2 separate regions of the Homo sapiens genome follow, and region 1 is linked to region 2. The links come from fine-mapping of genetic effects on plasma protein levels. A gene starts in region 2. The other region holds a variant in brackets. All regions are shown on one strand. Distances are between the middles of the regions.

The links. PIP is the chance, under the fine-mapping model, that this variant and not a neighbour inherited with it causes the effect. Protein levels are from antibody-based Olink assays in UK Biobank. Linkage for the fine-mapping came from a reference panel and not from the study's own genotypes, which makes the PIPs less certain.
Region 1: its variant is fine-mapped to the plasma level of the ASPN protein (UK Biobank, PIP 0.99).

Annotation. Positions count from the first base shown.
Region 1 is chr9:92,449,944-92,454,943 of GRCh38, reverse strand. The region is part of intron 5 of CENPP (centromere protein P); the gene reads right to left. Among named protein-coding and RNA genes, the nearest start is that of OMD, 28 kb to the right of the region's middle. The variant C/T (reference allele first, on the strand shown) is at 2,008.
Region 2 is chr9:92,479,604-92,484,603 of GRCh38, reverse strand. ASPN (asporin) reads left to right here and starts at 2,098. Exons shown (of 8, transcript NM_017680.6): 1 at 2,098-2,311. All of the region lies in intron 5 of CENPP (centromere protein P), which reads right to left.

The sequences.
Region 1 (5,000 bases), 30 kb after region 2:
GCTACTTTTTTGAGCAAAAAAAGAGGGAAGACCATGGTATGAGTAGAGGGATGATGATAGTATGATTTTAATAATAAATGTTCACCACCAGTAGTGCTAGAACCAGCAGTGTCCCGGGTTGCAGAACTTTGCCTTGGAAATCCAGTTCCATTTATAGTCTTGGGCAAGTTACCACCTCTCTGAGCCTGCTTCCTCACCTATAAAGGGTAGGGGTGACAACACTGAACAAGGTTGCTATGAAGAATAAATGATAAAAATATATATGCAATGCTTTGTAAACCATAAACATTTACAAAGAAAAATAAAAGATCATGAAGTCCTTAAAGATAAAAGAAAACAATACTATAATAATCACTCAAAAATTAAAATATTCTAAAGTTTCAATTGCTTTAATAAACAAAATAAATTTTTCTACAATGTAACAAAAAATTGTGATATCATGGCACTTATAAGAACATATGTAAAAGTAAAAAATGTTTACTGACATTGAAAAAACCCAACATCTTGAAATTCATCATTAAAATCATAAGGTAAATACTAAGGTTAGAATAAAAGACAGATTTATCTATGATCTGAATAGTGGAGCTTAAAGTAGCCAAGTTAATCTTTTTACAAAAAGAAAAGACAAAACCAAAATTTTAAAATACTGGAAATGATTCTTGAAATCCCTGCAATTAATTCACTGAGGTTTATGTTTGTATTTTCAATCTTCCAGCTGTTAGCCATTTTTGGTTTTAAGTTTGCAAAAAACAAATCACTAATAAAAATCATAAACAACCAAAACTGCATTAACATTTACTGCCAAAAACACATTTTCTGGTGAATACAAAATATTACCCACTGGAAAAATCCATTAAAGATTGAAAACAAGTGACTTACTATTTATTGGGTTTATGAAGGACTAAATTACTGAAGTGATTTTCTTTAACTATTATGAGGTATTTAGAAGTCACTAAAACAAAAACTTTTTTTTTTTCTTTTTTTTCCTGAGATGAGGTCTTTCCACAAATTGTCCAGGCTGGTCTCAAACTCTTGGGCTTAAGTGATCTTCCTGTCTCAGACTCCAGAGTAGATGGGATTACAGGCGTGAGCCACCACACCCAGCATTCCAAAAGCTTTTTTTAAAAAATTTCAATTTTCGTTTCCCTTAAGCTACCATACTATTTCTCTTTCATTCACAATTCAATCCCTTTTTGAAAGAATTGCCGCTTGGTGCAGAGCTGAGTTCAATTCCTGGGTATCCTTGTTAACTTTCCGTCTCACTGATCTGTCTAATGTTGACAGTGGGGTGTTAAAGTCTCCCATTATTATTGTGTGGGAGTCTAAGTCTCTAATAGACATCTACAGAACTCTCCACCCCAAATCAACAGAATATACTTTTTTTTCAGCACCACACCACACCTTTTCCAAAATTGACCATATAGTTGGAAGTGAAGCTCTCCTCAGCAAATGTAAAAGAACAGAAATTATAACAAACTGTCTCTCAGACCACAGTGCAATCAAATTAGAACTCAGTATTAAGAAACTCACTCAAAACCGCTCAACTACATGGAAACTGAACAACCTGCTCCTGAATGACTAATGGGTACATAACGAAATGAAGGCAGAAATAAAGATGTTCTTTGAAACCAATGAGAACAAAGACACAACATACCAGAATCCCTGGGACACATTCAAAGCAGTGTGTAGAGGGAAATTTATAGCACTAAATGCCCACAAGAGAAAGCAGGAAAGATCCAAAATTGACACCCTAACATCACAATTAAAAGAACTAGAAAAGCAAGAGCAAACACATTCAAAAGCTAGCAGAAGGCAAGAAATAACTAAAATCAGAGCAGAACTGAAGGAAATAGAGACATAAAAAACCCTTCAAAAAATTAATGAATCCAGGAGCTGGTTTTTTGAAAGGATCAACAAAATTGATAGACCCCTAGCAAGACTAATAAAGAAGAAAAGAGAGAAGATTCAAATAGACGCAATAAAAAATGATAAAGGGGATATCACCAC[C/T]GATCCCACAGAAATACAAACTACCATCAGAGCATACTACAAACACCTCTATGCAAATAAACTAGAAAATCTAGAAGAAATGGATAAATTCCTCGACACATACACCCTCCCAAGACTAAACCAGGAAGAAGTTGAATCTCTGAATAGACCAATAACAGACTCTGAAATTGTGGCAATAATCAATAGCTTACCAACCAAAAAGAGTCCAGGACCAGATGGATTCACAGCCGAATTCTACCAGAGCTACAAGGAGGAACTGGTACCATTCCTTCTGAAACTATTCCAATCAACAGAAAAAGAGGGAATCCTCCCTAACTCTTTTTATGAGGCCAGCATCATCCTGATACCAAAGCCTGGCAGAGACACCACAAAAAAGGAGAATTTTAGACCAATATCCTTGATGAACTTTGATGCAAAAATCCTCAATAAAATACTGGCAAACCGAATCCAGCAGCACATCAAAAAGCTTATCTACCATGATCAAGTGGGCTTCATCCCTGGGATGCAAGGCTGGTTCAATATACACAAATCAATAAATGTAATCCAGCATATAAACACAACCAAAGACAAAAACCACATGATTATCTCAATAGATGCAGAAAAGGCCTTTGACAAAATTCAACAACCCTTCATGCTAAAAACTCTCAATAAATTAGGTATTGATGGGACGTATCTCAAAATAATAAGAGCTATCTATGACAGACCCACAGCCAATATCATACTGAATGGGCAAAAACTGGAAGCATTCCCTTTGAAAAGTGGCACAAGACAGGGATGCCCTCTCTCACCACTCCTATTCAACATAGTGTTGGAAGTTCTGGCCAGGGCAATTAGGCAGGAGAAGGAAATAAAGGGTATTCAATTAGGAAAAGAGGAAGTCAAATTGTCCCTGTTTGCAGATGACATGATTGTATATCTAGAAAACCCCATTGTCTCAGCCCAAAATCTCCTTAAGCTGATAAGCAACTTCAGCAAAGTCTCAGGATACAAAATCGATGTACAAAAATCACAAGCATTCTTATACACCAATAACAGACAAACAGAGAGCCAAATCATGAGTGAACTCCCATTCACAATTGCTTCAAAGAGATTAAAATACCTAGGAATCCAACTTACAAGGGATGTGAAGGACCTCTTCAAGGAGAACTACAAACCACTGCTCAATGAAATAAAAGAGGATACAAACAAATGGAAGAACATTCCATGCTCATGGGTAGGAAGAATCAATATCGTGAAAATGGCCATACTGCCCAAGGTAATTTATAGATTCAATGCCATCCCCATCAAGCTACCAATGACTTTCTTCACAGAATCGGAAAAAACTACTTTAAAGTTTATATGGAACCAAAAAAAGAGCCCGCATCGCCAAGTCAATCCCAAGCCAAAAGAACAAAGCTGGAGGCATCATGCTACCTGACTTCAAACTATACTACAAGGCTACAGTAACCAAAACAGCATGGTACTGGTACCAAAACAGAGATATAGATCAATGGAACAGAACAGAGCCCTCAGAAATAACGCCGCATATCTACAACTATCTGATCTTTGACAAACCTGAGAAAAACAAGCAATGGGGAAAGGATTCCCTATTTAATAAATGGTGCTGGGAAAACTGGCTAGCCATATGCAGAAAGCTGAAACTGGATCCCTTCCTTACACCTTATACCAAAATTAATTCAAGATGGATTAAAGACTTAAACGTTAGACCTAAAACCATAAAAACCCTAGAAGAAAACCTAGGCATTACCATTCAGGACATAGGCATGGGCAAGGACTTCATGTCTAAAACACCAAAAGCAATGGCAACAAAAGACAAAATTGACAAATGGGATCTAATTAAACTAAAGAGCTTCTGCACAGCAAAAGAAACTACCATCAGAGTGAACAGGCAACCTACAGAATGGGAGAAAATTTTTGCAACCTACTCATCTGACAAAGAGCTAATATCCAGAATCTACAATGAACTCAAACAAATTTACAAGAAAAAAACAAACAACCCCATCAAAAAGTGGGCGAACGACATGAACAGACACTTCTCAAAAGAAGACATGTATGCAGCCAAAAAACACATGAAAAAATGCTCACCATCACTGACCATCAGAGAAATGCAAATCAAAACCACAATGAGATACCATCTCACACCAGTTAGAATGGCAATCATTAAAAAGTCAGGAAACAACAGGTGCTGGAGAGGATGTGGAGAAATAGGAACACTTTTACACTGTTGGTAGGACTGTAAACTAGTTCAACCATTGTGGAAGTCAGTGTGGCGATTCCCCAGAGATCTGGAACTAGAAATACCATTAGACCCAGACATCCCATTACTGAGTATATACCCAAAGGACTATAAATCATGCTGCTATAAAGACACATGCACACGTATGTTTATTGTGGCACTATTCACAATAGCAAAGACTTGGAACCAACCCTAATGTCCAACAATGATAGACTGGATTAAGAAAACGTGGCACATATACACCATGGAATACTATGCAGCCATAAAAAATGATGAGTTCATGTCCTTTGTAGGGACATGGATGAAACTGGAAATCATCGTTCTCAGTAAACTATCGCAAGAACAAAAAACCAAACACCGCATCTTCTCACTCATAGGTGGGAATTGAACAATGAGAACACATGGACACAGGAAGGGGAACATCACACTCTGGGGACTGTCGTGGGGTCGGGGGAGGGGGGAGGGATAGCTTTAGGAGATATACCTAATGCTAAATGACGAGTTAATGGGTACAGCACACCAGCATGGCACATGTATACATATGTAACTTACCTGCACATTGTGCACATGTACCGTAAAACTTAAAGTATAATAATAATAATAATAATAAAAAGAAAGAATTGCCTTACCTCAGTCTGTATTACCTTTCTATTCACATGGACCTTAATCTGTTGTGGCTGACCTAACAATTCTCCTTAATCTATTTTCCCAAAATTATCTTATACAAATAACATTAAACAATAATAGCTGATTTTAT
Region 2 (5,000 bases):
TACAGCAATTTCACCTAACAAAAATACATACACATGACCCCCAAATGACAGACTGAGGAACGTTCATAGTACCTCTCCAAAAGGTAATTAATCTAGTTGAATATATAAACAATTTGTGGCTTATTCATGTATGAGAATACTATACAGTGACAAGAATGAACTACTGTGTATCACAATGACACGAATGGATCTCAAAAGCATGTCACTGAATGAAAAAAGCCAGATGCAAAAGAGAATGCACAGTATGATTCCATTTATATAAAGTTCAGGAAATAACCTATGGTGCTGAACTCAGGCTGTGACTTGAGGAGTAAGAGGAGGGATTCTGGATGTATGAGAATGGAGTGTGAGGCTGGGATTTCTTGATTGGGGTCATTTTGTAAAAATTAATTGAGTTGTACCATTATGATATGTTTTTTTTTGGTAACATACACTTCAATAAACAGTTCAGAAACAAAACATTGTGCAGGACAAACTGAATTTGACCCAAGGGCTTCCTGTTTATGACTGTGTTCTGAAGGAATTTAGGCAAACACTAGATGCTCTGGATACAAAGATTTTAAAAATCCAGTTCATATTTTCATTATGTTCCCAATTCATCCAGTTAACAGATACATTTGCAACTGAAATATACTTGAATAAATGAGAATATGAGCATTCTAAACCAAACAGGAGGGCCGTCATTCCCTAAGGTGCTGCAGGGCTAGGATGGGGCCTGAGTTACAGAGGGCCACTAATGGGACTACCGAGCTGCCTGGAACTGTCAGCCTAGAGGTCCAAGGAGGAGTACTTTATTTAAGTGAGGGGAGGATGAACACATAGCCAGCTGCTATGCACATCTGAGGCACATGTATTCTTTAGGACTGTAGCTGCCTTGCTTAACACAATGTGTGCCATTTCTCTGGAGAGAGGGAACAAACGATGGTCAGACTCTTGATGACAGTAGAGAACAGGTCTTCTAACCCACTGGAAAAGCTCTTTGCTGGCCTCCAAATCTATACAACAGTTGGGAAGAACCATTGGGGTCACTTACAACAGTAAGTCCTTGCCACTAGGGTTAGAAAACTGTCCTCTCAGGCCGGCCATGGTGGCTCATGCCTGTAATCCCAGCACTTTGGGAGGCCGAGGCGGGCAGATCACGAGGTCAGGAGATCGAGACCATCCTGGCTAACACAATGAAACACTGTCTCTATTAAAAAACCAAAAAATTAGCCAGGCGTGGTGGCGGGCGCCTGCAGTCCCAGCTACTCGGGAGGCTGAGGCAGGAGAATGGCGTGAACCTGGGAGGCAGAGCTTGCAGTAAGCCAAGATTGCGCCACCGCACTCCAGCCTGGGTGACAGAGTGAGACTCCGTCTCAAAAAAAAAAAAAAGAAAACTGTCCTCTCTTGAAGGTCTTAGTTGATGTAGAATTGGGCAGTCTCTTGGGGATGAGTGGAAAGGGGGTACAAATAATGATTTATTTTCAGGAAATAGCATCTTCCCTGCTCTAAGTCTCCCTAAATGTCAGTGAGGCCATAGCTAATATTCTCTTGAAAAGGGAAAGTTGTATGCATCCTAAGAGGGTGTTACTTGGACATGCATGTGTGTCTGTGTTATATCACATATGTTGAGTCCAGGGAGCAGTTCATGGAGCCTCATCCATAGTTTCCCTGACATGCTATAGCAGTGCTAAAAGCTTAAAAAAAAAAAAAAGTCTGGAGAAGTATGCATAATGCAATAGCTACAGTCATTAGAAGAAAAAAAAAGTATGGTTCTTTCTCAGGTACATCTGAAGTTTGGGTATATACTTCAGTAATGTTGGTATCCTTTATTCAGATTGATAAATATTTTATTAGTCTATACAGGTTGAGTAATTTTTGAAATTGTAATTTACAAATATTCATTCACTTAAGAATCTAATATTTTTAAAACTAGGTATTTCTTGAATGACTCCGACTGCACTTTCAATGGCCAGTTGCCATGCATTATTAAACTTTCTTTTTTTTTCTTCTTCAGAATCTTCCAGTAGACGTCTAGAGTTTAGCTAGAAGTCTTGGCTACGATACAAACAGTGATGGAAAACACATGAGCAGTAACAAGTTTTAATCTTGCTCCTCAGTACTAACATGGACTAATCTGTGGGAGCAGTTTATTCCAGTATCACCCAGGGTGCAGCCACACCAGGACTGTGTTGAAGGGTGTTTTTTTTCTTTTAAATGTAATACCTCCTCATCTTTTCTTCTTACACAGTGTCTGAGAACATTTACATTATAGATAAGTAGTACATGGTGGATAACTTCTACTTTTAGGAGGACTACTCTCTTCTGACAGGTATGTTTCATGTCTATCTTACAAGTATCGATGTATACTTTACAGTCAATACTAAGGAGACATTAATGTTATTAATAAATGCTTATAAATAATAGGATAAAGTCCAAAGTTTATCTCTATAATTTCTTAAAAATCAGCATTTAAATACAAACCTAAATTTGTACCTAAAATTATTCTAGTTTTATGTCTTACCTATAATGAATGTATTTTAAATATAATTATGTGACTTTTTTTTTCAGCTAAGTGAAAACCTGTCATTATGCCTTACCATAAATGTTAACATGATTGATTTTAAAAGTCATCTAAATAAACATCTTGTATGTTTATCTAGGAAAATAACATTGCTATAATAATGATCATGAAGTTTGGGGATATCACAGCTATATTAAATGAAACAGTAAATATATTTTTCAATATTTAAAATATTTTCTAATGTGTATTTAAAATGTGTGAATTACTGAAATGTCAATTTTACTTATACATTTGAATATTCATTTTTTTCCTTGATAAATGTCTTCCTTATTATAATGAAATGGCACTGAAAAGTTCAAATGGAAATCTATTCAATTCCAAGAAAGAATACTTATCAGCAATAGTTTAGCTAGCACTATATTCAATATGAAAGATTAGGAAATTTTCACAGCATGTATACAGTCAGAATTTAACACTTTCAAAGATTTCCTTTGTCTACTCCCAAAGTAAATTTCTGATTAAATTTTAGATTAAAAAATTTAAGCAATGTATTCAATATTCTACTCCCTAGTAATCTAAATAGCGCACAGCATTCTTTCATGTTAATCTATTCAGAGGTGTGGCACCCAGGAAACAGTGGCCACATGGTGTAGGGACTGAGTCATAAAGAACCTGAGGGGGTTGTATTTCCCTAAAAATAAAGTTGTTTAAATCCAAGAATCAAGCTGTTAAAAGAAAGAAATGAAAAAAGAAAGAAAAATCGAGCACAAGCCCACACACATAAAAGGATCCTGATGTTTTTAGTTTGTTTTTTGGCATTAAGGAGTATAGTGTAGTAGTGGAAAGAACAGAGGATATATAGTCTTCTGTTACAACTAACTACTCAATTAAAAACAAATATTCTGATAACTGATCTGAGGTTTGAGACAAAAACAATTAACTTTACAAGCACAAGTCTTGAGGCACTGTGGGAAACATCATAAAAATGGAGAGGCAGTAGATTTTGTTTTTTAAGACAGTAGCTTGATTGCTAGACATGTGGAGAAATTAATGAAGGGCAAAATTAGTATAAAAGGAAGAACAGCTAGAATGCTTTGTCAGAATGCTAGTTATACTTCTAAGGTAAAATTAACTACTTTTTAAGGAAAGTGCTATCTTTATCAGTATCCATGAACAAATGGTACTGTGAATAAGTTTCCAAATGCATGTTGGACTTTTAACTCATTTGTTAGCTTACAAGACTATGCCTTGATTACATCTGAATTTGGTTTGGATTCCTTCGGTGAAATATATGGAGTATGTTATATCACATTTATATGCTGAAATCTGCTACTGGTACCTGTGAACTGATAGGCATGTTTAAACCCAGGGGAAAAGTTGCCAAGCGGGCCTTTAAACATGGGATTTAAAAGCACAGTGACTTATTTACCTAATAATAGTGTCTGAGAGGAAATACCATTTCACTTAGATAAACTTTCTAAGTTTGTAGACCAGTTAAATGGAAACAAGAAAGCTTATGTGCTTCTTAAGCTTTATTTCCAGTCCATATGTTATGAACTCTTTTAAGAACTTGGCCAAACCTCCTTACCTAGGCTTTTCCAGAGGAAAGTCTGTTTACTGTCTGGAAGTAACTATGAGATTAAAATCCATTTAGGAGGACATGCAGTCTAGTGCAAAGCACAACCAACAAGCAGTGAGGAAGCCAGCCCTCAGCTCCACCACCTCCAGCCAGTTCTGGACGCTCACTGCCTCTGCTTTTTCTCAGTAAAAGAGGGCCATGGGGGGAAAGTCTCAAAGACCTCTCTTAGCTCTAGGCTACTATGATTTATTAGTAATAGCAGTAGCACTGGAAGAATACTCCAAACACTACTCTGATTAAGAGAGACTTGAAACCAAAATCCAAAGCTTTCCATGAGTGGAAAACACTGGCAAAACTGGTCTAAATCAGGGAAATATTGAGTATTCCTGAGAAGAAGATTTAATATTTTTAAAGGGTTTAAAAATAGAGTAACCTGAATACTGCCAAAACTAATAAAACAGAGGTTGTACCTCATTAATAAACTCAAAATAAAACAGCCAAAAGTCATATCATTTTAAATGACATATAATATTCTCTACATTCTTTCTGAATAATAAGAAAAAAATACTGCTATCTAGGGTTCTCTCCTAGACATTCCATTATTTTCCTATTGGTAAACAGTTGCACACTGAACTGGGGGAGGTTTAGGACCTATACTTGATTGTACTTATTAACAAAGCAGTGGAAGAGACCCAGCAAGAGACTCAGGTAAAGAGTGTAAATAATGAATTCCTCATGGTATCAAGGTTGGCCTGACTTTTTTCTTTGCAAGCAACCAGGATACACAAATGCAAAAGATTAGATTAATTGTAAAAGGCTAACAGAAGACAGAACTAGCAGAGAGAAATGAATTTTCCAGAAGGCATTTTTGAGTTTCCATATAAAGACTTTCCTAACAGCCATGGATGGACAACTGTG